Linked DNA regions of Homo sapiens. The protein of the gene in region 2 binds, or shares a complex with, the protein of the main gene of each other region. Each region holds a gene or a part of one and is shown on either strand. Other genes may lie near its edges.

Region 1 (8,309 bases), on a different chromosome or scaffold from region 2:
CGCATGACTACCCTCCCCACAGGCTGGCAAATGCCCATGGGAGCCAGTGATCCAGCCTGCTCTAGTCTGTCAGAAAGGCTGCTCAGGACCAGATTACAACCTGGAGAAAGTAAGTCCCCCCATCCCACATACAAATCCCAAACCCCAGCGACTAGTGTTGCTTGAACCCAAGGGTTCATATGGACTCAAGACAATTTAGCTTTTGAGCTATGTTGTCGCACAGGTAAGGACTTGAACTTCTGGTCACAAGGTCAGTTGGGAAGGCCTGCCCTGGCCTACTTCCCAAGCCCACTGTTACTTCCTCTGCCGCGCTAGGGCGCTAATCTGGCTATTTTTACTCCCCAAGGACAAAGTAGTAAGGTCAAACCAGACCTAGAGGTACTTCCCCCAAGCCTTCCTACAAAGCAGGGCAGTGGTGAAACACAGATTTCAGCCTGGGGTTGGCGTCACCACCAGTCAAATGCGCCGTCTAATCCCAGTTTATGTTCGTGGTTACTGGGGCAGCCCAGTGATTGTAGAAAGAGACTATTTTAGTCCTTTTGCAAGAAGGGGCTAAAAGGAGATGAGGGAGGCTCAGGAGTGTTAAATATTCATCTCTTTCCTTGGGAAACAGCTTTATTTACAAAACAGGTCTAAAATAAGAACATGAAATGACAAGTCCTTGGGAACTGCGGGAGAGGTGGTTCTTGTGTGAAGCCCAGGCATCCAGACGTAGGGCCAAAAAAAGGGCTAGTGTGAGGGGACCTAAAACTTGAACTCCTTATATTTCTTGCTGCCCCCACGGCTGTCCTGGGGCTGAGCTTTCCGTTTTTTTTGCTGTATAGGGAGAAAGAGACACAGGTTAAGACAGGTTGAACCACCCCCGGACCCCCAAAACAAGGGTGGGCAGCCTGACATAGACATAGAAGTCTGTGGGAAAGGCGCTGAATCTGAATTCTCTTCGAGCTCCCTCTCAGACTTGGCTGAGTTCCTCCCCCTCATCGTCCTTAAAGAGGGCAGCCCACTGGAGGATTTCTAAGACTTCCAAATCTAAGGAAGCACAGAGCAGCAAGCAGAGGCCACCCTCACTCTCACCACTAGAGGGCACCATGCCACTGAAAACGGCAGGCCAGGGTCCCTGGCTCTCACCCAGCCCAGCGCCCCTGGAAGCGCCTACCTTCTGTTTGGCAGCGTGCTCAGCCACCATGTCACTGAAGTCCTCCTTCTCTACTTGAGCCTGCTGCTCCCGCACATGCTCCTCATACTTCTGGGTCATGGCCATAGGATCCAGCTCCAACTCTTCAGGCGCCAGCGCCACTTCCACACCTTGCAGCTCAGGAGCCGGGCCCTTCCGGCTCATAACCTGGAAAGGAGATCAGGGCCTGGTCATCTCCAAAGAGTCAGAGAAGCCCTAGCTTCTGCTGCCTTTCTCAGCCTCCAAAAGCAGTATCCTCCAAGTACTCACCGTGGACATGTCATAAATGTGGGTTGATCCCATCATGGCCCCTCCAACAGTGGCTGTTCTCTTCTCTGGCAACACAGTGAAGAGCTGAGGTGTCTCACTTCTGCGAAGGACAATGGGATCAGGCCCAAAAAGCAAGGGACAAAAGGGTCTCCAGAAGCGGAAACAAAAGATACAGGTGGCACCTCCACTCAGCGCCTTGGAGAGCTTCTGAGCTCCCCAAGGATGCAGCCTCTGCAGTTCTGCCCATGACAGAAAAGAATTGGGCGGGGGGGTGGCACAGTGCTGACTCCAGGGAACACAGATGGAGCTAAGGGGCCCCCTGAATCAAGTCAAGGGATCACAGACCAGGACTCCCACATGCACATAAGGGTCAAAAGGTCAGAGAGGCTCAAAGTTTCCAAAAGAACTTTGGTACAGAGAAGCTGGCAAGATAGAGCAGGCGACAACAGTTCCCACCCGAAGAATGTCATGCCTGGAGTTCTCATGTATGTAATTCACACTTCCAGGCCTTCCAACGCAAGAGCCATCCACAGCCAGTTTCACCACTAATTTCAAGGATTACACTAGGAACAAGAGCAAATCTACCACTATCACCCCAGACTATGCCCATCATCTCCACCTCTCCCGCTGGAAGAGGTGACAATCTATTGTCCACACAGGAGCCAGAGAAAATACCTTAAAACGGATGTCGGGTCCTGTCAGACCTTTGCTCAAAACCCTCTGAGGCTTCTGATCATTATCTGAATAAAATCCAAACTCCTTACCATGACCTAAAGGGTTCATAGCCTGGTCCCTTACCCAAGCCCTCCTCACTATACTCTGTCCACAGTACCCTTCTTTATTTTTCTTCCTTGAATATGCAAAGCTTGAGACTTCTGCTTCCTGACAAGGAGCAAGAGGAACCAGATACACCCTCCTGCCTGAAACAACCAAAAAAAATGGGCAAAATATATGAAACAGTGGTTTTCAAGACACTACACATGGGGCAACAAAGCACAGTGATTCCTGCGAGACAGGAAACAAATGTGATGAGCCCTTCAACTGCCCCAGCATACCACACCTGAGAGTTTGCAGGCCACAGAACAGAGGGGAGACTCATGGAGAGCCCTGAGGACTCCGTGAGTTGGGAGGATGAAACTGAAAGTCCAGGGAGATCAAGGCAGCTAGAGTTCACAGGATAGAGTACTGGAGAAAAGAGCAGAGAGAGAACTCGAGACCTACAGAAGGTCCTCAAGTATGCAGGGGAGTACTAAGCAGCACATGCCTACCAAGGACAGGGAAAGAAGCACCCAAAAGGATTCATAACAGCAACTGCTGCTCACTCAGAACTGGGAATAGAGTAACTCCCACTAGCCAGCCGGAAAAACCTCCTGATTCACAGGGTGGTGGGTAGAGTACACAGGTACTTGTGCCTCACAATGGGGAGGACTGCTTCAGTCCTGCCTCAAGAACCCCAAAACAAGACCTGAAAGGATCAAACTATCTCCATATAACTATATTCCCGAATGAGCTGAAGAAAATGTACAGGAATACAAAAATATCTTGGACCCAACAAGGTAAATTTCACAAAGCCTAGCATTCAATAAAAAATTACCAGGCACTGGACAGGCCTGATGGCTCACACCTGTAATCCCAGCACTTTGGGAAGCTGAGGCAGGATGATTGCTTGAGCCCAGAAGTTCAAGACCAGCCTGGGCAACACAGTGAGAACCTCTCTCAAAAAAAGAAAGGAAAAGAAAAAAAAATTACCAGGCGTGCAAAAGAGTAGGAAAATACAATCCATAATGAGGAAAATGAATCAACTAATGGCAGTCAACCCAGAAATGGCACAGATGTTAGAGTTAGCAGACAATACATTAAAATGTTGTTATAGCCAGGTGTGGTGGCTCATGCCTGTAATCCCAGCACTTTGGGAGGCCGAGGCAGGCAGATCACCTGAGGTTAGGAGTTCAAGAACAGCCTGGTCAACATGGTAAAACCCTGTCTCTACTAAAAATACAAAAAAATTAGCTGGGTGGGGTGGCGCACGCCTATAGTCCCAGCTACTTGGGAGGCTGCGGCACAAGAATTGCTGGAACCTGGGTGGCAGAGGTTGCAGTAAGCCGAGATCACGCCACTGCACTCCAGCCTAGGCAACAGGGCAAGACTCCGTCATAAAATAAAATAAAATAACATAAAAATAAAATATTGTTATAACTGCATTCCACATGTTCAAAAAGTTAAGAGAGAAAGAATAGATTTAAAAGACCCGAAATCAAACTTCTAGAAAGGAGAATTATATTGTATGGGATTACTGTTAGATCAGAAATTACAGAAGAAAATAATAGTAAACTTGAACATATAGCAATAGAAATTTTCTAAAGTGAAATACAAAGAGAGAAGAATTTCTTTAAAAATGAAGAGCATCAGTGAGCTCTTCATTTATTTTTTCATTTATTATTTCATTAATAGAGGAATAATTTGAGTTCCCAAAGGAAAGAGAAGGGAACAGAGAAAATATCTGCAGAAATCATGACAAAATTTTCCCCAAATTAATAAAAACTAAAAACCCAGATCTAAGATGCTTAAAAAACCCCAAGCAAAGAAACATTCAGAAACTACACCAAGGCACATTGTAGTCAAATTGTTAGAACTAGTGATAAAATCTTAAAAACAGCCAAATAAAAATGACACATTATGTACACAGGAACAAAGGTAAGAATGACAGCAGTTTTCTCACTAGAAACAATGCAAGAAAGAAGACACTGGAGCAACATCTTAAAAGTACTGAAAGAAGGCTGATGCGGTCACTCACACATGTAATCCCAACAAGCTGGGAGGCCAAGGCAGGCGGATCACTTGAAGCCAGGAGCTCGAGACCAGCCTGGCCAACATGGCAAAACCCCATCCCTACTAAAAATATAAAAATTAGCTGGGTGTGATGGTATGCACATGTAATCTCAGCTACTCGGGAGGCTGAAACAGGAGAATCGCTTGAACCCAGGAGGTGGAGGTTATAGTGAGCCAAGATCACACCACTACACTCCAGCCTGGGCGACATAGCAAGATTCCATCTCAAAGAAGAAAAAAAAAAGTGTTGAAAGAAAAAAGATTGTCAACCTAGAATCCTAAACCTGGCAAAGATCTTTCAAAAATGAAGGCCAAATAAAGAATTTTTAAGACTACTCAAGCAGAACAAATTCAAAACCAGCAGACCCACAATACAAGAAATGTTTTTTTAATATTTTGTAGAAATGGGGTCTCACTATGTTGCCCAGGCTGGTCTCAAATTCCTGGAATCTAGCAATCCTACCACCTCAGCCTTCTCCCAAAGTACTGAGAGTACTGAGATTACAGGCTTAAGCCACCACGCCCCCTAACTTAAGAAATGTTAAAGGAAGCCCTTCAGGCAGAGGAAAAATGATATCAGATAGAAACCTGGATATACACAAAGAAATGAAAGAAACAAAAATGGTAACTACATGGCTTCATGCATGATTCTTATTTAAACCTCCCTAAAAGATAACTGACCATTTAAACAAAAATAATAACTATATAGTATAGGATTTATAACATATGTAAAAGTGAATATATGACAATATAGTGCAAAAATTGGGAGGAGAGAAATGAAGTATACTATAATGGCTCTTAATACTATCTGGAAGCAGTGTAACATCAAGAGAAGGTAGATCCTGATAAAGACATGATCTATAAACCCCAGAGCAACAACTAAAATAACAAAGCAAAAACTTAACAGCTAATTAACCAACACTGGAGATAAAATGAAATCATAAAAATTGTTCAAGTAATCCAAAAGAAGGTAGAAAAACAGGAAAAAGGGAACAAAGAGCAGAATGGATAAAGAGAGGGTCATTTCATGATAAAGGGGTCAATTCATGAAGACCTAACAACACTACACATTCAACTACCTAAAAATGGAGCTTCAAAATACTAGCCCATCCCTGTCTCAGTGCCTTTGCACTTGCTTGCATTTACTGTTACTTCTGACCCAGATGATCCTGTGGCTGGCGCTTTTTCATTCGGGTCTTAGTTCAAGCACCACCTCCCCAGTGAGGCCTTCCCAAAGGCCTCCCTGCCACCCCATCCCATTACCCAGTTTCCTCTGCTTCAACATCCTTATCTACATCTGAAAGTATCTTGTTCTCTGATTACCAGTTTACCTCAACTGCTGACTCCTCACTGCCTACAGTAGTGCCTGGCAGAGAGTTGGTTCAATAATTGTTTAAAAAAGGATGAGGGAGAAAGGAACAACAGTCAGCCAGCCAGCCAAAGGGAAGTGAAGGTCCTCCCCTCTCAGCCCTGTCTGGTACCCTTACCCGTCCATCGCCTCCTCAATCTTCTTCTTCCTCAGCTCAATGAGTTCAGGGGTCTCCATTCCAGCAGGCACTGATGAAAAGCCTCCAGGAGTGATAAGGCCACTGTAAAGAGAGGAACAAGCTCTGGAGTAAAGAGAAGGACCCCAAAGATAGCCCACTTCCAAGAGGCATTCTCTGCTTCCCCCACCTGTCTGCAGGGGTAATAAAGCCTGTCTCATCTGGTTTGTCTTCATCACTTTCTTCCTCTTCCTCTTCTTCTGAGGATTCTTCATCAGATGGTTCCAGTTCCCCCCAAGGGGTCCGATCAATCTCTTCTTCCTCAGTCTTGGTCTGAAAGAGATCACTTTATCATTCAACAAATGTTTTCTAAGTACCTATTATGTGCCAGGCTGTTTTAAGCTGAAGGGGTGTAAGAGTCAAAACACAATAATCCCTACCTACCTAGAGCTCAAATTCTAGTGAGGAGCTTACATTAACATCTCAGGAAAATGTATGCCCTTTTCCAGGCTCTGCTGTGTCAGAACACACAACTCCCTGATAATGAAGCTATAAACCAACAATCTAACCTTCATGACATTAAGTAAAACCAAGATCGCTAGTACATGGCCCATACCTGAAATTCAGCAGCATTGGTTCCAAACACGTCCCCATAGAGCGGTTTCCCAGTCTCATCCACTGGAGGTTTGCCCCAGCCACCAGCATGGTACCCAAAGGAACAGCTCTGCAAGACAGTGAGCACAATCAGTTCACTCCTTAGCTGCAAAAGAAATTCTGAAGCCCTAGAGAAAAGGCACACTCAAAAGTACAGAGCTGATACTTGGGAACTCCGGAAATTATGACTGCAGAATTAAATCAAATGTTATGAAGCATTAGAAACCAAAATTAATAAACAACTAAAATCTGGAGGCAACAGGATAAGGAGACAGGAGGCAGAAAGTATGCTAATAACTTCTGTCATGGCAGAGTCTTTACTGTCTGAAACCAAAATACGTACATTGAAAACATGACTTCAATTTCTTATTGAGTTTTCCTAACTTTGGAAAGCTAGCTTGTTCAGAATCTATTTATCTTAAGGGGCAGAAATTTCTATCTAAAATTTAACAATACTACTGTTTTACTTTAATGACTCATCAATTTTTTTAATGCTTATTTTAAAATAAGAAATTTGAAGACATTCTTGAGATAAAATTATTTCTGAGAGACTGAAGTGAAGCTAAAAAAAAATTATTTCTTTTTTCTTTTTTTTTTTTTTTAAAGTAGAGGTGCGGTTTCACTATGTTGCCCAGGCTAGTCTTAAACCCCTGGCCCCAAGGGATCCTCCCACCTCAGCCTCCCAAAGTGCTGGGATTACAGGTGTTGAGACACCACATCTGGCTGAGATAAAATTATTTCTCTCTGGTCATTCTTAATATTCAGAGACATATCTGGAAACACATTCACCAAACAGTGAATTTGGCTATTTCTGAGTGGTAAAATTGTGACTTGCTTTCATCTTTGTACTTGTCAATTCTGACTGAATATTTTATGATGAGCATGTCAGTTTCTTTAAAAAACAAAAACCATTATTTGTTTTTCTACACATACACATGGTATATGACAAATATTATGTCAATAAAATATTTTTTAAGTAAATAAAGAGACACATGGTGGAGTTAGAGAAGGAAAACAAACAAATTACCTTCCAGTTCAAAAGCAGAAATGGCCAAGAATGAACGAAAGGACAATGCTCACCTCAGGGATGGGCGAGTTCAGCCCAGGGATTTTCAGGTTGGGATACGATGGGGGTGGTCCATATCGCTGCATGGCAATCAGCCATGGGGGAGGGACCTTGTGGGCATTCTGCAGGAAAAAGAGAACAGGATACCATCTGCCAAACCCTATCCCTGTCTCTGCCTTCCACTCCAATCCCCACCAGCCTCTTCGCTGCTTCCCCAGACAGCTAACTGACACTCACTGGTCCTACTGGCATCCCCAAGGAAATCCTTAGCTCATCAGACAGATCTCCTGGCTTCTTCTCCTTCAGTCGTGTCTCGAACTCCTTCCCCTGAGGGAAAAGCAGAGCATGCTACATTGTAGACCCAGACACTCAGTGGGAGCACAATCCTAACGCACATCAGATATAAAATCCCAGTGAGGGCTACCTGGCTCCCACTCTGATTCTCATCACTTCTTTCCCTGGCCAAAGTCGGGGAAGGAATAAAAACCAGGCCAGACTCACAGTGCTGTCAATAACCCACTATGAGAACACGGCCAACGTTAGGACCTGCCTCCTCATCTGTAAAATGAGGGCACTCGACAGGAAGATATGCAAAATTCTTCCACCTCATAAATTCCATGACATCATGGTGACTACGATTTCAAGGATCAGAAAAAACCAGCAATTTCTCTACCACTCCCAATATTAAAAGTTTCCTAAAAGCATCTGCCCCTTGGCCCCTCCATCCCTAAACCACCTACCACAAACTATTATCATTTCTAAGACAGGATACGAAGAGTCTATCAGGGAAAGAAGCCACCAGATCTGCATCTCTCCTCCAAATAGAGCCTCA
Region 2 (8,309 bases):
ACAGGTGTGAGCCACCACACCCAGGCTTTTTTTTTTTTTTTTTTTTTGAGTTGGAGTCTCACTCTGTTGCCCAGGCTAGAGTGCAATGGTGGGATCTCAGCTCACTGTAGCCTCTGCCTCCCAGGTTTAACTGATTCTCCTGCCTCAGCTTCCCAAGTAGCTGGGATTACAGGCGCCTGCCACCACACTCAGCTAATTTTTGTTATTTTTAGTAGAGACGGGGGTTTCACTATGTTAGCCACACTGGTCTTGAACTCCTGACCTCAAGTGATCCGCCCGCCTCAGCCTCCCAAAGTGCTGGGATTACAGGCATGAGCCACTGCGCTCGGCACTCCTCTAGCTTCTTACTTGTCACTATATAGGTGTATGACCTCGACCAAGTCACTTTTCCTAATCTACAAGATGTCTGAGATTAATGACGTAACGTCAAACATTCCTCCTGGCTCTAATTTCCTACCTCTCCCAGCTGCTGAATAAGGAAGCACAATGACTAAAAAGCAAATGTGAGCCTAGGTATTGAGACACAAAACTCTCAAACACTTGGCTCTGGTGGCATCTCAGCTGTTAACTTCCCTAACACCTTTTCTTCATCCTAGCTTACTTTCTGTGTATCTGCAGATTCACATTCATTTTAGGAAGGAGGTCTGTGCTAACACAGAGCACCAGTTGTACTCACGCGTGGATCTTGCCATTGTAGTACTGGGTATCCATGATGATTACCAGGTGGGCAGCCACGTTCATGCCCCAGCAGAGACTCCGAGAAGCCACCACCACCTGGATAGCCCCTGAGCAGTAGAGGGGAGAGGAAGGCTGAGGGCAGGGGTCTCCGGGTGAAGTAGGCTCACTGCCTCATGGGCAGGCCGTGGCTTACCCTGTGCTATGTTTCAGAACTCACAGCAAGGCTGGCTAGGAACAAGGTCTAACATGAATGAGAGCTAACACATTGCTATGAGGTAGCTCCACGCTGCTGGTGCCTTGCTCTGGGACTATCCAGGAGAAAACAAGTCATCATAGAACAGAACCCAAAGCCCAGGAACACCAAGGCAAAACTACAGCTGATGGACTGCTCCTCTGACCAGAAAGTGCTAACACTCATGCAGCCACGGGCTGGCTCAGCCATGCCAGCAAAACAGAGATCACTCTAAGCATGCCCCAAACAGGCAGATTCAAGGGCCAAAGAGTGACAGGAAGTGATTCTGGCAGAAGAATCTCCAATGAGGCTCCAATAAACAGTATTAAAACGTAAATCTTTGCACAAAATGCCACAGGGCAACAAGAGACAGTGGCCAGCAAGAGTGAGCTCAAGGGAGAATCAGAGCTCTCCTCTGTGCTAATCTCTAAAGTCTAACTATCTTGGTGAGACGGTTTGGATCTGTGTCTCCACCAAATCTCGTCGACCTGTAGTCTCCAGTGTTGGAGGAAGGGCCTGGTGGGAGATGACTGGCTAATGGAGGCAGAGTTCTCATGAATGGTTTAGCACCACCCACCCTTGGTACTGTCTAGTGAATGAGTTCTCACGAGATCTGGTTGTTCAAAAGTGTGTAGCACCTCCCCACTCACTCTCTCGGTCCTGACTCCTGCCATATAAGATGCCTGCTTCCCCTTTGCCTTCCCTGAGGCCTTCCCAGAAGCAGATAACACCATGTTTCATGTACAGCCTGCAGAACTGAGTCAATTAAACCTCCTTTCTTTATAAATGACCCAGTATCAGGTATTTCTTTATAGCAATACAAGAACGGACTAATACACTTGGGGAGTCTGGTATCCACGGAGAATCAGCGGTCTGGTGGCCAAAGGTCCTGGACTCTAGAAAACCAGGTTCTGAAATAGCACAACCTGATGTGTCTGCCTGTTTTCTCACCTGGCAAGTAGGGATAGTGTTTGTCTCACCTGCCTCACGAGGTTCTTGGGAGGATCAAATGAGTTAACAGCCAAGAGTCCTAAACAGTATTTTGAAAATCTCTGGTATGCTGTAGAGAAAACACTGCCACCCGCACCCCTCAAGTTTAACACCACCACTTGGTGATACCCTTGCTATGCTCCCCTTCCGTGGCCTGACTTACCTGAGCTGAAGAGCTGCTCCACCAGGCGTCGCTCCATGGGGCTGAGCCCCTCATGCAGGTAGCCCACCCCATTTAGCAGCGTTTCCTTGAGCGTGCTGTCACTTAGCTTCTCCAGGTACGGAATCAGATCCTTCTCGGTGCAGTGCAAGAACCTGTGCGGTACAGGCACTGGCTCAGCTCAGAGTAGTTCAATTCCTGGCAGACACTTTGCCAGCTGTGCAGAACCTGGCCCCAAGCAACATGGGCTAACCCCACCCTCATAAAGAGGACACCCTTGGAGTAGGCCAGCCTCACTTAACCTAACCCCAACCCCCAGACGCCAGGCCCCACCTACCTCTGCCGTTGGATGTCTGCTGCACAGGTGGTGAGGATGTCAATGGCAGTGAGGCGGGTCTGCTTGCGAGACGGCACAAAGACAATGACAGGCTTCTTGGGCGAGTGCTTGGTGATAGCATGGTACACAGGCTTGGCCATGGAGAGCAGGCGGGTTTGTGTATGGCTGATGTTGAAGCCCTGGCGACCGGGGAGAAGAAAAGACACCAAGGTTATCAGACCTGGGTCACTCAGGATCTATGTGACACCCCACAGACGGATGAGGAGAGTGGGTCCTACCTGGATGTGCAGCTCCAAGGGGACGGGACGCACATTGGGATGGAAGTTGAAGGTGGAGGTGGCACTGCAGCCCAGCCAGTGGGCCACATCCTTGGCATTGGAGAGCGAAGAGCTGAGTGCCACAATGCGAATGGGCCGCTCAATCTGGGAGGAGATGTAGCGCATTCGGGAGCAGATCACTTCTAAGACAGGCTGGAAAGAGGGAGGGAGGGAGGGTCACTGCAGGCCAAGGCTCCCATCCTCTGCCTGGAGGTCCCCTTTGTGAACAGCCCAACAGCCTCAAAATGACCTCATTCTTCCTTCTAACTAGGAGCTCTCATGTGTTTGGTTCTACCTCCTCCACGGCAGCCAACCTCCACTAAACAATACTGTTTTCCTAAAGTACTACCAAAAAAGTTAACATTGTCCCTTTGGAATAGGGCAGCAGGTAGAATCCTCTGGGGAGAAGCCCCGAGCCTCCGTCCTCAGACCCAAACATTAGGTCCAATGCCAAGGCCACTTGGTCAGTCCCAGTCCCTCATCTGTGCTGCAAGGTCACGCCATACCCCATTCTCGCCCCCGATAAGGTGGACCTCATCCACCACGAAGAGGTTGATGTTCTGCACGTTCTTGCGCTGCTTCCATCGCCGGGAAAGTATGTCCCACTTCTCAGGGGTGCTGATGATAATGTTCCCTTTGCCCAGCAGCTTCAGGTCTGTGCTGGTCTCGCCTGTCAGGAGTACCACCTTCTTGTTGAGCCTGTCCTGGAACTTCTCGTACCAGTCCATGTATACCTGGCGGGCAGAGGAGGGAGGCAGAACAACACTAGGCCATACCAGGCATCTTTCACTTATGTGAGGAAAACCTGAGATGCCAAACAGACCTGTTGACCTGCAGATCTCAAGCTACGTTCTAATCCCATAGCAGCCTCTATGCGATGCGATGGGGCAGCTTTTTCTTTTTTTTTTTTCTTTTGAGATGAAGTCTCGCTCTTGTTGCCCAGGCTGGAGTGCAGTGGTGCGAACTTGGCTCACTGCAACCTCCGCCTCCCGGGTTCAAGCGATTCTCCTGCCTCAGCCTTCCAAGTAGCTGGGATTACAGGCGCACACCACCACGCCCAGCTAATTTCTGTATTTTTAGTAGAGACAGGGTTTCACCATGTTGGCCAGGCTGGTCTCGAACTCCTGATCTCCGGAGATCTGCCCGCCTCGGCCTCCCAAAGTGCTGGGATTACAGGCGTGAGCCACCACGCTTGGCTGGGGCAGCTTTTCTTTAATACACAAACTGAGGAAATGACCCTGCAAATTTCAGGGCTTAGAAAGCCTTCATACGGAATCACAGATGAAATGCTTCTTGGGAAATTCACATGACACAGCGCCACGTCATACCTGCTCTGCCAGGGCCTCCATGGGGGTGATGTACACACAGCGCCCCTCCGAGCTCTGCAGCAGCATTCGCAGGATGGCAAACTCTGCACAAATAGTCTTCCCGCTGCCCGTGGGGGCCCCCACAAACACGTTGTCGTCACTGTTGTATACAGTGTTAAACACTGGAAACCAACAGAAAGAAGCAGTGTAAGTATCAAGAAGGAAGAAGAGACGGACTGGGACATGGATCAATTGTCAAAACAAAGGACAACATACGAAATGAAGTCAGGCAGTTCTGGAGTGCAGACAGAGGAGCTAAGGCATCCAAGCCTCTAACTCCAGGCCAGCCCTACTGTACCCCCTTACCTGCTCCCACTTAACAGTTAAAGGGGAAGAGGCCAAGATCAAGAGCCCAGGTCCCCTGGAGATGTGTGGGATGACAACAAAAGCAAAGCAAAAGAAGCCACACATTCTTCTTTGCTTCTCAGGGACTAGGATGCGGGACAGAAAGGAACTGGATCCCTTTCTCTGCCCCTTCAACACTCTCCTGCGTTTCCTAGAAATAGCCTAAGGTAGAAAGTAAGAGCCTTATCCCTGGCATCAAGACTGAATTAAAATCCAAGTTCTACTATTTATCAGTTGGTTCAACTGGGGAACCCTCTATGCCTCAGTTCCTCACCTATAAAAGGAACACTAATGGCAGTATCTCCAATAGAGATTCCTTTTAGGCTTGATGGGAGGAATAAGAGAGAAAACACCGGTGATGTACTCAGCCATGGACTGAGGAAACAGTGCCTGCTCTGTGAATGTCCCCGTTATTTATCATGATGTGGTGAGGAGGCTTCAGTGCCACCCCATGGTTCTGGTTCAATACTTGAGCGCCAGGGGCAGGCCTCTAAGCCTCCTGGGCCCGAGAAATGACCATGCCATGTAAGGCCTTGCTCTATTGCCCCTCCACAGTGACACATGCAGAGCAGCAAAGCAACCAAAGGCTTCTGACAAAGGAAAAAGTCCTGGTGGGTCCCAGCGGTCACACTGAGGAGCTCCCAGACCTCCCAAGTGCCTGAGCACCCCCACTCCCCTGCCTGCCACAGAGCACATCTGTCTCCCGGTGACTTCAAAAGCCTCCAGAGGAGGGATGGAAACACTTACCCTGGGTCTGGATGGGATTGAAGAAAGGAAATTTATCTTGGTAAAGACTCTCAAAGGCACTGTTTCTCAGAGCAGACACGGGCAAGGGCTGCAGGTCCAAAAGTTCGGTTGGAGGGGGGTACTTCTCCGGCAAGATCAGGTGCCGGAAGGAGACAGGCAGCTGGGTCTCACAAGCTGCCAGAAAAGAAACAGGAAGGATATAAGCACTGCTCTCTTTCCCTCACTGGCCTCTAGATCCCCTCCATGAACACTGGAAACCTAGGCAGCATATGTATCACTCTGTCCCCAGCAAGGGCAAGCCCGGGACAAAGTGCAAGACATTCTTCTACTGTCCTTGGAGGGACTGTTCCTGGGGACTCTGGAGAGGAGACACTCACAGAGCCAGCGGTCAGACACCACTCGGATGAAGTACTGAGGGGGCAGCGGTTCAAAGACAGGCACGAAGAATGTAATGAGGTGCTCGTCCTGGGCGTACTTGGCCTTGAGGAGAAAATACTCATGGTGCAGAATCACCTCGCTGTCCACATCCTCCACCAGAATCCAAAAAGCCTCGGATGAACCATGCACCTGCCAACAGGAGCAAGGGTAAAAGGAATGTGAGTCAACGTAGACTGAGTGCCTCCAATCCATCTCCTCGGCCCAGCAACGTAGACTGAGCACCTCCAATCCAGCACCTCTGCCCAGCAAAGCCTCACCTTTTCATCCCACTGGAAGTCTGGCGTGATGGTCAGCTCCACCTTCAGGGTGGAGCGTGTGATAGGCTGCAGGTGCACTGACAACTCCAACTTGGGAAACAGATGGACATATTTGTGGATGGTCTTCCCCATCTTTGGCATGCGGATAAGCTCCCCTACAAGGAAATGAGAGTACTGAGGCTGCAGCCCAGCCTGCCTACTATACTGCAAACTGGGCCTGAGGGCCACTGTGGGAAAGGGGTAGGGTCTTCCCTTTATGGTCAGTGGAGCCCAGGATTCCAAGTCCCCAGACCAAGGGCCAGCCTGTACTTCAGTGGGACTTGGGGAGTGAACACAGGATACTAATGCACAGGCCTAGGAACAGGAAGACTACATAGGCAAACTGGGAGAGACACCCAGGCAGTGAGGACAAGGGCGAGAGCATCCCACACACCAATCTCATTATGATTCAGGTCGTACAGACGCTCAAAGGGGAAATTCTTCTTCTCAATCTTCTTCACTACTTCCTCAGGGAGTTTCCGGAACTGGCGCAGAGGACACATGGACTGCCACCTATCCAGGAAGGAGGCAAAGCTGTTGGTCCCTTCTGCAGGGATGTGACAAACCACCCACTTCATGGCTTCCAATAGTTTAGCAGTGACTACACAAAACACAGTCATTAAAGGCAGACACTGACACTGTGCCAGCCCTGGCCTCCACCACAGAGGGCCTTCCCTCTTCTCAATGTGCACCAAGGTTCAGGTCATACTTCCGATGTCAGGTCTGGAGATCAGATGCACCCTGAGGCTTTCCCATCAGACCCTTGGGTTGGGGACCCCCACTCATGGTGACCAGCATCCAGCTCACTGGGTCCTTACATGCGTTTGTCGATCATCTTGCAGAGGTTCAGGGTCTTGTCTGTAAGCTGTGCCCAACCTCGGTTCAGGACAATTTCAAATATCGCTCGCATCAACCGGCCAGCCGACTAAGCAAAGAAGCAGCATTCCCACTGTTAAGTCTCGACTATCCCCAGGCCTCATGAGCCACTCTACACACGGTTTCATTACCTCCAGCTCTGACACAACCACCCACCCTAACTCAAAGGCAAAGTCCCCTCTGTCTTTACGCCTTTCTCCGTTCCATATAGTAGATGCTTGCCGGATGGGGAACAATTAGAAGAGTGCTGCGGCTCAAGGTCACTGCACAACATTTTAACCTAACATTCACTGCATGATTTTAAAGCTTTTGAGTCATTTAGCATTTAGAGTTCTAGGAAGAGTTGAGGGTACCAGTGACCTGTTCTTAGAGGTAAAGATGAAGAGCAGCTAATAAAACCCTGTGCCATTTTTGGATTTATTTATGAGCTGTGCAGCAACAGTGGGAAATCACTTTGCTGCTGGGAAGCAGACACTGCGTGCTGTGGCTCTTCCTGTCTCTCTGAGGGCCCGTGGAGCCTCGAAGCATTCCCTCTTAAGGTCTTACCTTTCCCACGTGCTCAAGATGTATACTACAGAGTGGCTGTACCACACATGCACCAACCAACTACCCGGCAAGAGCAGAACTAAGCACTCCTCCCATCTCACTAGGGTCGGGCCTCCTTTCCCCAGGATGCACACAGCACACAGGGATTGAACTGTTCAGGCCCCTTCTCACAGCTGCCATACAACTCCGCTCTCACCTGTGTGACATACACCATGTCAGCCATCAGTGCAAAGCCCTCCAATTTCAGCTGTGAGATGAAGGCTTGCAGAAGAACGTTGATCTGTAAAGAAGCAAAATCAGCCAGCAGGAGACCAATCACTGAACAGTCCAAGAAAGGGAATTACATTTCTGCTCTGAGCATCCAGGCCAGGTGAGATTTGCTACAGGTCTTGATTTACAAATACTAAATAATTGTTATTTCATATAAAAAGAACATGCGAGAAGGCTGCAAAAACTAGGAGAACTGAGCAGGAAACCACACATGAACCCAAATTCAAGGTTCATCTTTTAGAAGATTATGAAAACCACTTAATCCTCATCCTTATCAAAGCAAAGAGGAGAGGAGCTCACCTTAGCACTGGGTTCCTCAATGCTCTCCTTTACAGGGATAGGCACCCTCTCCAGCAACTTCTGCAGCTCCAGCTTCTCCTCCTGCCACAAGGAGGAAAAGGTCAAGGGAAAGCCTTGTGGCCGAGGAGGGACACCATTCAGTGACTTGGTGAGCACCAACTCCCCGCCCCATCATGCTGCATAGGCTCACCTCTCTCACTGTGATGTTCTTGAACTCAGAGGACAATGAGAAGACCCTGAAAAGCTCAATCTCACTCAGGGTGGGCTTCAGCAGCTGGTTGTAAGTCTGCACTGTATCATTGGTGATGTAGTAGTGGCTGGCTATACGGCCCAGTTCTGTCACCTGGAGAGAAGGTAGACTCAATCCAGTGCTGACTATTAATGAGCTCCAACCTCTAACTGTGGACCAT
Region 3 (3,907 bases), about 11 Mb from region 2:
CTGCCTCAGCCTCCCAGATAGGTGGAACTACAGGCACACACCACCATGCCCGGCTAATAGGGTCTTGCTATGTTGGCCAGGCTGGTCTTGAACTCCTGGCCACAAACAATTCTTCCACCTCAGCCTCCCGAAGTGTTAGGATTACAGGCAGGAGCCACCACACCTGGCAAGCTCAGTTCTAAACAATGTTAAGTTTGAGTTTACTTTAAAACACCCAAAAATAGGGCTGGGCACCATGGCTCACGCCTGTAATCCCAACACTTTGGGAGGCCGAGGCGGGTGGATCACTTGAGGTCAGGAGTTCGAGACCAGCCTGGCCAACATGATGAAACCCCGTCTCTACTAAAAATACAAAAATTAGCTGGGCACGGTGGTGGTCGCCTATAATCCCAGCTATTCAGGAGGCTGAGGCAGGAGAATCACTTGAACCCAGGAGGCAGAGGTTGCAGTGAGCTGAGATCATGCCACTGCACTCTAGCCTGGGCGACAGAGCAAGACTCCATCTCTAAAATAAAAATTAAAATTAAAAAATAAAATAAAATAAATAAAATAAAATAAAATAAAAAAATTAGCCGGAAATCACTTGACCCTGGGAGGTGGAGGTTGCAGTGAGCCAAGATTGTGCCACTGCATTCCAGCCTGGGCAACAGAGCGAAGTTCAAGAGTTTAGAAAAATCTGGGATTAAGATGTGTTTATGAGTCATTTCCATAAAAATGCATAGCTGAAATGGCCTAGGGAAAAAGTAAACAGCAAGAAGAGTGACGCTAGGACTGAATCTTGAGAAAACCCAAATTTAATGGCTGGATAGAAGAGATAAGCCTCCTAAGGAAATACTGGAGCTTCCAGAGAGGTAGAGGAAAGTGAGGACAAGGTTGTGACCAGGTAAAGGGTGGCACCACAGGAGTGCGGGGCTCCTGTCTCCATTCAACAGAACTTGCTGGGGCTGACTGGCTGCCTCCAGCTGCTTCCCATATCTTTGGACCTGCCACAGTGCTCATGCCAAGGCCACCCTTCTTCTAGGCTGCTAGAGCCCACGACTGAGCTTGATGGGAGCCATTTCTGCTGAATTGTCTGACGGAATCTTTGCCCTGGGGCTCCACACTGGACTGGCTGAGACCACCTCAGAATTGCACTGTAGTGAGAAGCGCTTCCTATTTCCTTTTTTTCCTCTTCCCTTACTCATTCCTGCACTGCAGCTGGAAACTGCCCACCTCTGGCCCTCTAGTTAAGCACAATAATAATGTATCCCCTTGACTCAGGTATTTTTTTACTTAGAAACAAATGCATCCTAACTGACACACCACCCACAAGCTGACAGGAAAGGGCGAGCGTGATGTGCACCAGATGTCAGACTGTAGGGTAGAGAGTTTGTGAAGATTAAAAAGGAAAATATTTTCCTCAGCCAACCACCAAAGGAAAAGATATAAAACAAGAGGCTGGTTTAAAAACAGGAGACTATTTAATCCATCTAAAAATACAAATCAGGAAATGGGGGGAACCATAGGAAAATCCTCCACCTCTAACAGAGCGAAGTTACTGGCTTTCTGCTTGCTCCAAGAATCCCAAGGCTTGATGTTTGGAAGGAATTATCTGTTCTTCAACTACTCCCAGATACTCAAGACATAAGTTACACACATCTGGAGAAGGGTTCTGCCCTGCTGAAGCTAGATGGGAGCTCAATGCATGGGAGAAAGGAGCATCAATCTAGAAAAAAATGATCAAAGAACAGCTGAGTGACAGTGTGGGGCCATCCCAGGCAAGTGGGCTCTTGGTGCTCTGGTGTAGCCAGAACCCATACAAGCTGGGCTGGCCTAGGAAGCCCACCAGCCAGCCTGTGTTCAGCTACAGCTTCTGTGTTCTTATTTACCATCATCAGCCACAGCCCTTGGGAGCAAAGCCCTAGACGCCTCCTTCAAGCCCCCTGCTGGTTGGTTTCATCATTATCTCGCCTCTTCCAAATCTGTAAGAAATGAAAACACAAACTGAAGTCTAGGAGGCATTCAGTCAACAGACACTTATCAAATACCTATTCTGTGCCAGGCCATGGACAACTTGTCACCCCATTTACAAATCTGCTATACCCCATTTGGAAATCTGCTACAGTGGCTACAGCCACTGAGGAGAAAAAAGTTATCTCTAGAAGGAGAGGTATCACTTTCTTCTTACAAAGCTATGGCTTTTGTCTCAATCTTCCTTCTTTTGCCAGGTACTAGGGCAGTTACATAAAGAGAAGACAGAGATGCTCTGTGCTCCATGGGTCAATCCAATGGAGAGGACAGACAGGCAAAGCGATATGGCCGGCACTAAAACAAACGTCAAGTAGAAAGCGCTGTGGGGTCACAAAGCTGCCTGGGGCTCTGGGGAGCACTTCGTGGTCGACTTCTAGCCAGCCTCCCTGATGAGTCTAGGTTCTTCCTCCTCGAAACCAGACCGCACACTTCTGCAAAACTAACCTGGCCATAATCGCAACTTTCTTTGCTCACTCATACATTTTCTACACTTCCTTATACTTCTTTTCTGAAAATCTCTGCTTGACTTTCAGGGCCATACATTCTGCCCCCAACTCACTACTAAGTACTTCCCAATAGGTACCTGGCCCTCCAACCAAGGTCCTAACTCTATCCCTCTTCCTGCCTTGGCCCACTCCTCTCACTGGCCCCATACGCCACCTATTTGTGGCTCACTAAGCCTGTGGCCAACCCACCTGAATGTAAGCCTCTGACAGTGTGATCATCTGGGGAAGGATGTCAGTCACCTGGAGGTCTTGTAATTCATACCATTTGCCTGTCCCCTGCAGAAAGTATGAAGAGCTGGGTTAGTCTGCTCTCTAAAACCAAAAGGGTGTAGAAGGAAAGGATCATAGCCAAGACTAGAAAAATTAGAAGAACAGCCACTAGACATCATCCAGCAACAGTCATAAAGAAGAGGGTACATGACTTCTTCTGGCCATGATTCAATTAATAGGACTTTTGGTGTGTCAATCATGGCAAACTCAATTCCTGTTGGGAATTTTTTTAAAGCACTGTTTTTTGTTTGTTGTTTTTTTGTTTTTTTTTTTTTTTGAGACAGGGTCTCACTCTGTCACCCAGGCTGGACTACAGTGGTGTAATCACAGCTCACTGCAGCCTTGACCCTCTGGATTCAAGCGATCCTCCCCTCAGCCTCCCAGGTAGCTGGAACTACAGGTGTGTGCCACTAAAACTGGCTAATTTTTTTTTTAATAGCAATGGGGTCCCACTGTGTTGCCCAGGCTAACTCCTGGTCTCAAAAGATCCTCCCGCCTCAGCCTCCTAAAGTGCTAGGATTATGGGTATGAGCCACTGCGCCTGGCCCCTTGAAGTACAATGGAGTCTGAAACACTTCTGTACATCTTTTTAAAAGGAATTTAGTGGACACTAAAGATGAGAAAAGAGGAAGCCATCTAATCATCACCTATGATGTCTCCTTCCTGCTCAGAAATGACAGACTAGACATTCTCACTTATGAGGTACACAGTGTCAACCACTGAGAGAACCTAAATATGGACATTCCTGGCTGGGCACAGGGGCTTACGCCTGTAATCCCAGCATTTTGGGAGGCCGAGGTGGGCAGATCACTTGAGGTAAGGAGTTTGAGACCAGCCTGGCCAACACAGTAAAACCCCGTCTCTACCAAAAATACAAAAATTAGCCAGGCCTGGTGGCAGGTGCCTGTAGGTCCCAGCTACTTGGGAGGCTGAGGCAGGAGAATCACTTGAACCCAGGAGGTGGAGGTTGCAGTGAGCCAAGATCATGCCACTGCATTCCATCCTGGGTGATAGGGTGAGACTCTGTCTTAAAAAAAAAAAAAAAAAAAAAAGCAACAGGTCATCAAGAAAAGGTGTCCTTGGTGGACACTGTCTATCACACTAACCTGATTCCTTTGGCC
Region 4 (8,309 bases), on a different chromosome or scaffold from region 2:
CCCAGGAGTTTGAGACCAGGCTGGGCAACAATAGTGAGACCCTGTCTCTACAAATTTTTTTTTTTTTTTTTTTTTTTTTTTTTTTTTTTTTTTTTTTTTTTTTTTTTGAGACGGAGTGTCACACTTTCGGCCAGGCTGGAGTGCAGTGGCGCGATCTCGGCTCACTGCAAGCTCCACCTCCTGGGTTCACGCCATTCTCCTACCTCAGCCTCCCAAGTAGCTGGGACTACAGGCACCCGCCACCGCACCCAGCTAATTTTTTGTATTTTTAGTAGAGACAGGGTTTCACCGTGTTAGCCAGGATGGGCTCGATCTCCTGACCTTGTGATCTGCCCGCCTTGGCCTCCCAAAGTGCTGGGATTACAGGTGTGAGCCACAGCGCCTGGCCCAAAAAATTTTTAAAAATTTATTTAATTTTTTAAAACGTTAGCCAGGTGTGGTGGCATGCGCCTGTTAGTCCCAGCTACTCAGGAGGCTGGGTGATAGAATTGCTTGAGCCTGGGAGGTTGAGGCTGCAGTGAACTGTGATCACACTACTGCACTCCAGCCTAGGTGACAGAGTGACACTGTTTCTCAAAAAAAAAATTTAAATACTTTGTAATCAGCAAAATACTATTCATATTTAAGGACAGTATCACTATTAATATTCGTATTATTGGATAGTTTAATTTGCCCCACCTTCCCTCACAAGTGGATCCAAAAGTTAAGGAGAATGGCTACTGGTGTAGTGTTAATTATAGTCCAGTAAAAGCCTCTGGTTGCGTGTGGGCTGGAGGTAGCTTTTTCTTCTATAACCCTTCTAACTATAAGGCTTTTATTTTTCTGTCAGCCATTGTAAAGTTTATTGGGGGTGAGAAGAGATTGTCCTTTAGTAATATTACCAAGGTACCTTTTCCTTCCCAGACCAACCCTGGCTGAGATGCTTTCCTTTGTATTTGATAGGAGTGGGCTTTGCAAGCTCTGGTCTGTTCCTGATTGCAACCTCCTTCACACTCTTCGAGGTAAGTTAGAGTCTTATCCAAATCTCGGTCTTTTTCCCAGTGTGAACTCAGTTAAGCCTTAAACTCTGCTTGACACTCAGACCCCATACACACAGCATTAATCCTTGATTTGATTTGACTTGGTTTTCTCTGGCTGCAAGACTGGACTATCACAACTTCCTACACATCCACTTTTCTCTCATGTGCAGTCACACTCTGGCATTTTATAATCTCTAAACCAAAAACCAAAATGGGTTTTTTTGTGTTTTGCTTTTTTAAAAATGTAATTTAAATATTAGCTTAAATTAAAATAGTTCATGTTTTAATAGTTGAATAGTCACTTGAATACTCTGTATGTCCACATGTTCCCTAGTATATAACATGGGTTATAAAGAGGCAGGAACCTTTTAACTTGCATCTCTTACACTCCTTTAGGGCATAACACAAATGTAGGAGCAATTGTATTCCATCCCAAATCCACTGTCTCCTTGGACCCAAAAGATGTCAACCTGGCCTCTTGTGCGGCTGATGGCTCTGTGAAGCTTTGGAGTCTCGACAGGTGAATATCACTGTTCTGTGGCCCATACTGCCATCACTAAAGTAGATGTTTGATTGGTTGGTCCCCAGGACCTCAGTAAAAATCTGGCATTTAGGCCATGCGCAGTGGCTCACACCTTAAGGCTGAGGCAGGAGAATTGCTTAAACCCGGGAAATGGAGGTTGTGGTGAGCCGAGATTGCACACTGCACTCCAGCTTGGGTGACAGAGCAAGACTCCGTCTTGAAAGAACAAAAAAAAAAATCTGGCATTTAACCCCCAAGATGGTTTAAGAGTCAAGGTAACCTAGTGTGAAAATGAAGTAAGTGGAAGATTTCATTCTTAGGCCTTTTCTTACTAAAGGAGTTATGTCCGTTTTTTCTTACCTGTTAACTTTGGATCTTGATTTTTGTCTATAGCCTAGTGACCACTATTTCCTAGCTCCATTTATTCCAGAAAGATCCAGCCTACCTCCTACATGATAAATTAACAATGAACTAAATATAATATTCTTGGCAGTTCGTTGGTTCTTAGCAAACAGCCACAGGGGAGAGGAAAGTGAGGTTCTGTCTAGCAGTATTACCACGGAGATGTCTCCTCGCAATAGCATCATCCTTTACCTAGAATGTATTTTCCAACTACAACAGTTTTTAAAAATGTGTTTATGTGATTGTTTTCCAAAAAAAAAAAAACTTCGGAAGCACCCTGTTGGCCAAAAGGCATCTGAATTTAATTGTTTAGTTTTCTTTCTTTGGGAAAACACATGAAGGTTTTTACTTGAGAATTTTTATGAGAGCTAATTAATGTCTTCACTCCTCACCAGACAGGGTCTCACTTAGGAGCGCAGTGAGTTTTAATTGGCTTTGGTAATACTTAGCAATGTTTATTCCCCTTGGGCTTTGGCTTGTTCTGTGTATGCACATTGACAAAGTTCCCTTTTTAATTGCGTTCCTTAGAGTTCATGTTTATTTCCTTTTGCTGATGTTCAGATCTTTTGGTGGTTGCTGGGTAGCAGAATTTAATGGCCACCAAAAGGAGACTAAGCCTCATCTCTATTTAGGAGTTCCTTTTTCATTTGGATCTTGGAACAGGCCTAAATTTGAAAAAGGTTTATCTGTAATCCACTTGTACCAAAACTATGTGATTTCTGTGTCCTTATATCTCTTCCAAAGCATGTTTTCTTTCTAGAATCCAGGTACTCCTTTGGTGCAGAATGACTATTTTGCTTATTGGGCCAAAGTAGTTTACAAGTGTAGTTACAATTTAGCCTCTCGTGTTGTACAGAATGGGTATGTCTGCACAGAAGGTAAGCAGTTTTGTGACTATTTATATGTCTATAAAATTGTTTATATGTTTGGTTCCTTTCCAGTGATGAACCAGTGGCAGATATTGAAGGCCATACAGTGCGTGTGGCGCGGGTAATGTGGCATCCTTCAGGACGTTTCCTGGGCACCACCTGGTGAGCCATCCTGTTATTGTTTTATCCATATAGGCCTGTAGCATCTTCTTAACCCTTTATGGCTATCTGCCAGGTAAATTTTTAGAGCAGAGATCTTCAGGTAGGATTTTCTTGGGCTGCAGGGAATTGGAATCAGAGGAGAATGTTTAATATAGTGAGAGCTAAGTATATTTGCCTTTTTTTTTTTTTTGAGGTGGAGTCTCACTCTGTCACCCAGGCTGGAGTGCAGTGGCGCGATCTCGGCTCACTGCAACCGCCGTCTCCCGGGTTCAAGCAATTCTCCTGCCTCGACCTCCCGAGTAGCTGGGACTACAGGCGCGTGCCACCATGCCCAGCTAATTTTTTTATTTTTAGTAGAGACAGGGTTTCACCATGTTGGCCAGGCTGGTCTTAAACTCCTGACCTCAGGTGATCTTCCCGCCTCAGCCTCCCAAAGTGCTGGGATTATAGATAACAGGTAACGCGCCCAGCCATATTTGCCTTTAAATTACAATTAATCTGAAATTTCAGAGTTACAAATTACCAGAAAACAAGGATTTTCACTCTTGTCCAATGCTACAGGTATATAAGTCTCCCTTCCTGGTTCTGTAAGTTCAGGGAGGCTAGAATCTGTTAGAGAACTTTTCCATTAAGTTATAATTTACATACAATGGAATGGATTTATTTTAAGTGTACAATGCTGTCAGTCTTTACAAACGCGTACCATTCCTGTGATCGACACCTCTGTCAATATAGAGAATAGTCCATCACCCCAGAAAGGTCCCTCATGCCCTTTTCCAGCCAACTCCCCCTTCTAAAGCAACTGCTGATCTGACTTCTATCACCACAAATTAATTATGTCTATTCATACTGTGAATTCATTTGTGGCAGGCTTCTTTCAGCATAACATTGTTAAGAGTCATTCATGTTGTTGCATGTATCAGTAATTCCTTTTTATTGCTGGGGGTTATTCATTTTTATGACTGTGCCATAGTTTATCCATTCTCCTGTTGATGGACACTTGGGCTGTTTCCAGGTCTGGGCCAGTCAGAATGAAGCTGCTATAAATATTCTTGTACCAGGCTTTTTGTGGACATGAGTACAATTGCTGGGTCATAGGGTAGAGGTATGAGATGTATATTTAACTTTTTCTAAACTCCCCACCAGTTTTCCAAAGCGGTTACACCATTTTACATTCCCGGAGTTCTGGTTACTTCACATCCCTGTTAACATTTGGTGTTGTCAGTCTTACCATTTTGCCCAATCTAGCAGGTGTGTAGTGATCTCCCGTGATTTTCATTCTTATTACCCTGATCATTATTGCTCTTGAGTGCTCTGTCATATGCTTTGCCTGGTTTTTTAAATTGTGTTTGTCTCTTTTGTCTTTATTTCCATGTGCATAGTCAGTTATACCACCTTGTATTGAAGAGACTTTCCTTTCTCTGTTGGAATTGTTTCAGTACCCTTGTTGAAAATCATCTGACCATATATGTGTGGTTATTTCTGTACTTCCTATTCTCTTCCATTGATCTATTTGTGTATGAGTGATTTTTGTATCCCCAACATCCAATTTAGGGCCTAGTAAATGTATAAATGCTTGATGAATGAAAGAATATAACAGTGGAGGAAGAAAGAAGGTAACAGAGTCTTTGCTGGGCCATTCTTGGGGAATCCTGTTATTACAATAGCCACTAGGTTGGGCATGGTGGCTCACACCTATAATCCCAGCACTTTGGAAGACCACGGTGGGTGGATCACCTGAGCTCAGGAGTTCGAGACCAGCCTGGCCAACATAGTGAAGCCCCATCTCTATGAAAAATACAAAAATTAGCTGGGCATGGTGGCGCACACCTGTAGTCCCAGCTACTCAGAAGGCTGAGGCAGGAGAATGGCTTGAACCCGGGAGGTGGAGGTTGCAGTGAGCCAAGATTGCGCCACTGTGCTCCAGGCTGGGCAACAGAGTGAGACTCTGTCTCAAAAGAAGAAAAAAAAAAAAGCCCTAGAGGTTTACAGCGATTCCATGGTTTTCAGCTAGCACCTAAGGCAGATAAGCTTAGTTGTTGAGTCATTGTTTATGTCAGAAAGGAGCTTCCTGTTAATATGGTTATATGAATAGTTTCAGAAGCATTAATAACTTAAGCTATAATGGCTTAGAATACTTTATGTGTTGTAGAAACTGAATAAATATCAGCTGGTTGATTGTTAGTGTGATTTGGTTTTAGCTATGACCGTTCATGGCGCTTATGGGATTTGGAGGCTCAAGAGGAGATCCTGCATCAGGAAGGCCATAGCATGGGTGTGTATGACATTGCCTTCCATCAAGATGGCTCTTTGGCTGGCACTGGGTAAGGCTTCTCCCATGTAGTCAGGGGCAGTTCAGTACTCTCACCTCTTACCTATACCTGCTTCCACAGAGAACTGGATTCAAAGTGTTCATTTCTAAATTATTTTCTCAGGGGACTGGATGCATTTGGTCGAGTTTGGGACCTACGCACAGGACGTTGTATCATGTTCTTAGAAGGCCACCTGAAAGAAATCTATGGAATAAATTTCTCCCCCAATGGGTAAAATAAACACACTGAATGAGGGGCGAAAAAGGGTTCTGGGTCAGTAAGTACTCTATTTCTAACTTCAATACTGCATCCAATCCACAGCTATCACATTGCAACCGGCAGTGGTGACAACACCTGCAAAGTGTGGGACCTCCGACAGCGGCGTTGCGTCTACACCATCCCTGCTCATCAGAACTTAGTGACTGGTGTCAAGTTTGAGCGTAAGCTTTCCTCCTATTTTACGTCTAAATGACACAGACAAACAGTATTGTGTTCCCGTGGAATGCAGGCCAGGCTTTAGCTTAACTGAGCAGTAAAACAGGAGAGAAATTGACCTACTGGTAAAGGAGCAAATTATAATTTCCTTCCCTCTGCCATACCCTTAGATCTGTGGGAAAGCACGCTTCTCGTTGCAGGAAGTAAAGCAGACTTTCATGAGTGCTTTGCTTCATTCTTTCCTCCATGGATGCTCTGAGCACTGAGTCCTTAATATTATTCTGAATAGATTCTCGGTCAGGGAATGAGCCAAAAGACCTTACTGTTATTTGTTCCCTTAAGTCTGTAGAAACAAGTTTTTTTAAAAATAGTATGTTTTTGCAGACTTTTGTGCTTTTGTCTTCTCTTTTGAATACTTGAATTCCTCAAGCAATTCCCCTTCTCTTCTCCTGTAGCTATCCATGGGAACTTCTTGCTTACTGGTGCCTATGATAACACAGCCAAGATCTGGACGCACCCAGGCTGGTCCCCGCTGAAGACTCTGGCTGGCCACGAAGGCAAAGTGATGGGCCTAGATATTTCTTCCGATGGGCAGCTCATAGCCACTTGCTCATATGACAGGACCTTCAAGCTGTGGATGGCTGAATAGATGACAATGGGAAAAGGACTTGAACCTCAAGCTCTCTCTAAGGAGCTGTTTTCCTCAAACGAGAAGAATTGAAGTGTTTAGTTCTATCATGTTTTCTGCCAATTACCATGCATAGACCCTCAGTAGAATTGGATTTCCATGTCAGCCCCCACTCCAGGAAGGCAGCCCAATCCCTAGGTGATGGGGAACCCCTCTCACGGTTGAAAATTTATTACCTTTTTACGCCCTGCCACGAACTGTGTAGACATTGTTTTTATTAATCTTTTGTTTGGCCGGGCGTGGTGGCTCACGCCTGTAATCCTAGCACTTTGGGAGGCCGAGGTGGGTAGATCGCTTGAGCTCAGGAGTTCAAGACGAGCCTGGGCAACATGGCAAATGCCGTCTCTGCAAAAAAATACTAAAATTAGCTGGTCGCGGTGGCTTCTGCCTGTGATTCCGGCTACTTGGGAGGCTGAGGTGGGAGGGATTGCTTAAGCCTGGGAGGCAGAGGTTGCAGTGAGCCGAGATTGCGCCATTGCACTCTAGCCTGTGTGACAGAGCAAGACCCTGTCTCAAAAAAAAAAAAAATTTGTTCGAATGCCTTATAGCCTTCCTCACAGCACCCAGGATTGTGACTGACTCTGCATTTTTAATTCTTGAAACTTGGCTTTCCATAACATGGTACATGCTTCAGGACTACATATGACCCAGAGAGCAAGGTGGCTGAACTATAGTCTGGAAGCCCTCAGGTAAAGAGGCACATCTCACCACTCATTGGTTAAACAATGCATCATAGCGAGCACTTTTCCTTTCCCTGGAGAATGGGATGTGAAGCAGTAGACCGCAGCCACGCCGATGGTTATACAGTGAAGAAGACTTCACCTCTTCCTATTGAGTTTGCTTGGAATGCTGACAGCATCAGGCAACTCTGAACTGAACATTTGCTTTGTCAGAAAATATCTTTTTTTTTACTTTGAAGTTTGGCAACCTTCATGTTACCCCAAAGCAAAACCATTGTGTCAGGAGTCAAACAAATGTTTAGAAAGCAAACATGACGTCTCTATTGTACAACCTCCTTTCTCTTGGCTGTTTAAAGGATGTACTTCGTGTATTAAAGGGTACTTTATGTTGAAGTAACGAAAAAACCCTAATGGGTGTTCCTAAACCTAAACCTTTTCTTTATTCCACATTTGCTACGGTAAAATCCTGTTACAAAACTACCCTATAAAGAATTATTTTCTATAGTTAAGCATTTTCTGAATCCTAGCCATTGGTCCATAGAGGTCTCTTTTTTTTGGTTTGGGATATAATGGATGATCTCAAATATGGATTACTCTGATTTATGTCTCCTTAGCACCTTGTTAACAATTTTTTTTAAAATAGAAGGCTGTTTGCATTTTGGGCCAGACTGCCAGTAAGCCAGGCCTGGACTCAATTACAATTCTTAACTTGTCTGTCATGCACCTCTTTTCACCTCAACTATACAGCCTCTGAACTCTCAAATTACACAGTAAATTCAAAAAAATATATAGGAATTTGGAAGAAGAAAAGGTTGTCTACAGAGGAGAGTTATTAAAGAAAGGCTTCTTGGCCGGGCACGGTGGCTCACGTATGTAATCGCTTGAACCTGGGAGGCGGAGGTTGCAGTGAGCCAAGATCACACCGTTGTACTACAGCCTGGGCAACAGAGCAAGACTCCATCTCAAAAAAACTTAATTTGCTGTTGCAGAGAGGTTGACAATGGCTTTGGTCAGCTCTATTCTGTGGACCCTGAATGTGTGATATATAGCCAAACAACTGGTTTGTTTTGTTTCATTTTGAGACAGGGTCTCGCTTTGTCGCCGAGATTGGAGTGCAGTAGTGCGAACACAGCTCACCACAGCCTTGACTTCCTGTGCTCAAATGATTCTCCTGCCTCATCCCCTCATCCTGTGTAACTGGGATCACAGGAGGATGCCA

What was found.
Region 1: SNRNP200 (region 2) and SF3B2 share a complex: the UniProt entries of both Homo sapiens proteins name them as parts of the minor spliceosome.
Region 3: SNRNP200 (region 2) and USP39 share a complex: the UniProt entries of both Homo sapiens proteins name them as parts of the U4/U6-U5 tri-snRNP complex.
Region 4: SNRNP200 (region 2) and PRPF4 share a complex: the UniProt entries of both Homo sapiens proteins name them as parts of the U4/U6-U5 tri-snRNP complex.

Annotation. Positions count from the first base shown.
Region 1 is NC_000011.10:66,061,181-66,069,489, reverse strand, and holds the end of SF3B2 (splicing factor 3B subunit 2), read right to left. Parts: intron 7,805-8,309; coding exon 7,715-7,804; intron 7,600-7,714; coding exon 7,492-7,599; intron 6,482-7,491; coding exon 6,374-6,481; intron 6,091-6,373; coding exon 5,948-6,090; intron 5,863-5,947; coding exon 5,761-5,862; intron 1,545-5,760; coding exon 1,445-1,544; intron 1,343-1,444; coding exon 1,157-1,342; intron 817-1,156; coding exon 745-816; 3' UTR 182-744; downstream 1-181. UniProt on the Homo sapiens protein: Component of the 17S U2 SnRNP complex of the spliceosome, a large ribonucleoprotein complex that removes introns from transcribed pre-mRNAs.
Region 2 is NC_000002.12:96,281,138-96,289,446, forward strand, and holds part of SNRNP200 (U5 small nuclear ribonucleoprotein 200 kDa helicase), read right to left. Parts: intron 8,243-8,309; coding exon 8,090-8,242; intron 7,981-8,089; coding exon 7,900-7,980; intron 7,610-7,899; coding exon 7,526-7,609; intron 6,833-7,525; coding exon 6,726-6,832; intron 6,421-6,725; coding exon 6,302-6,420; intron 6,024-6,301; coding exon 5,869-6,023; intron 5,741-5,868; coding exon 5,551-5,740; intron 5,348-5,550; coding exon 5,174-5,347; intron 4,204-5,173; coding exon 4,043-4,203; intron 3,449-4,042; coding exon 3,221-3,448; intron 2,868-3,220; coding exon 2,676-2,867; intron 2,577-2,675; coding exon 2,398-2,576; intron 2,216-2,397; coding exon 2,064-2,215; intron 786-2,063; coding exon 677-785; intron 1-676. UniProt on the Homo sapiens protein: Catalyzes the ATP-dependent unwinding of U4/U6 RNA duplices, an essential step in the assembly of a catalytically active spliceosome. Plays a role in pre-mRNA splicing as a core component of precatalytic, catalytic and postcatalytic spliceosomal complexes.
Region 3 is NC_000002.12:85,646,815-85,650,721, reverse strand, and holds the end of USP39 (ubiquitin carboxyl-terminal hydrolase 39), read right to left. Parts: intron 2,793-3,907; coding exon 2,706-2,792; intron 1,962-2,705; coding exon 1,914-1,961; 3' UTR 1,439-1,913; downstream 1-1,438.
Region 4 is NC_000009.12:113,285,290-113,293,598, forward strand, and holds the end of PRPF4 (U4/U6 small nuclear ribonucleoprotein Prp4), read left to right. Parts: intron 1-903; exon of another isoform or gene 904-919; coding exon of another isoform or gene 920-942; coding exon 943-1,001; intron 1,002-1,415; coding exon 1,416-1,539; intron 1,540-2,885; coding exon 2,886-2,975; intron 2,976-5,176; coding exon 5,177-5,299; intron 5,300-5,410; coding exon 5,411-5,518; intron 5,519-5,608; coding exon 5,609-5,727; intron 5,728-6,177; coding exon 6,178-6,371; 3' UTR 6,372-7,616; downstream 7,617-8,309. UniProt on the Homo sapiens protein: Plays a role in pre-mRNA splicing as component of the U4/U6-U5 tri-snRNP complex that is involved in spliceosome assembly, and as component of the precatalytic spliceosome (spliceosome B complex).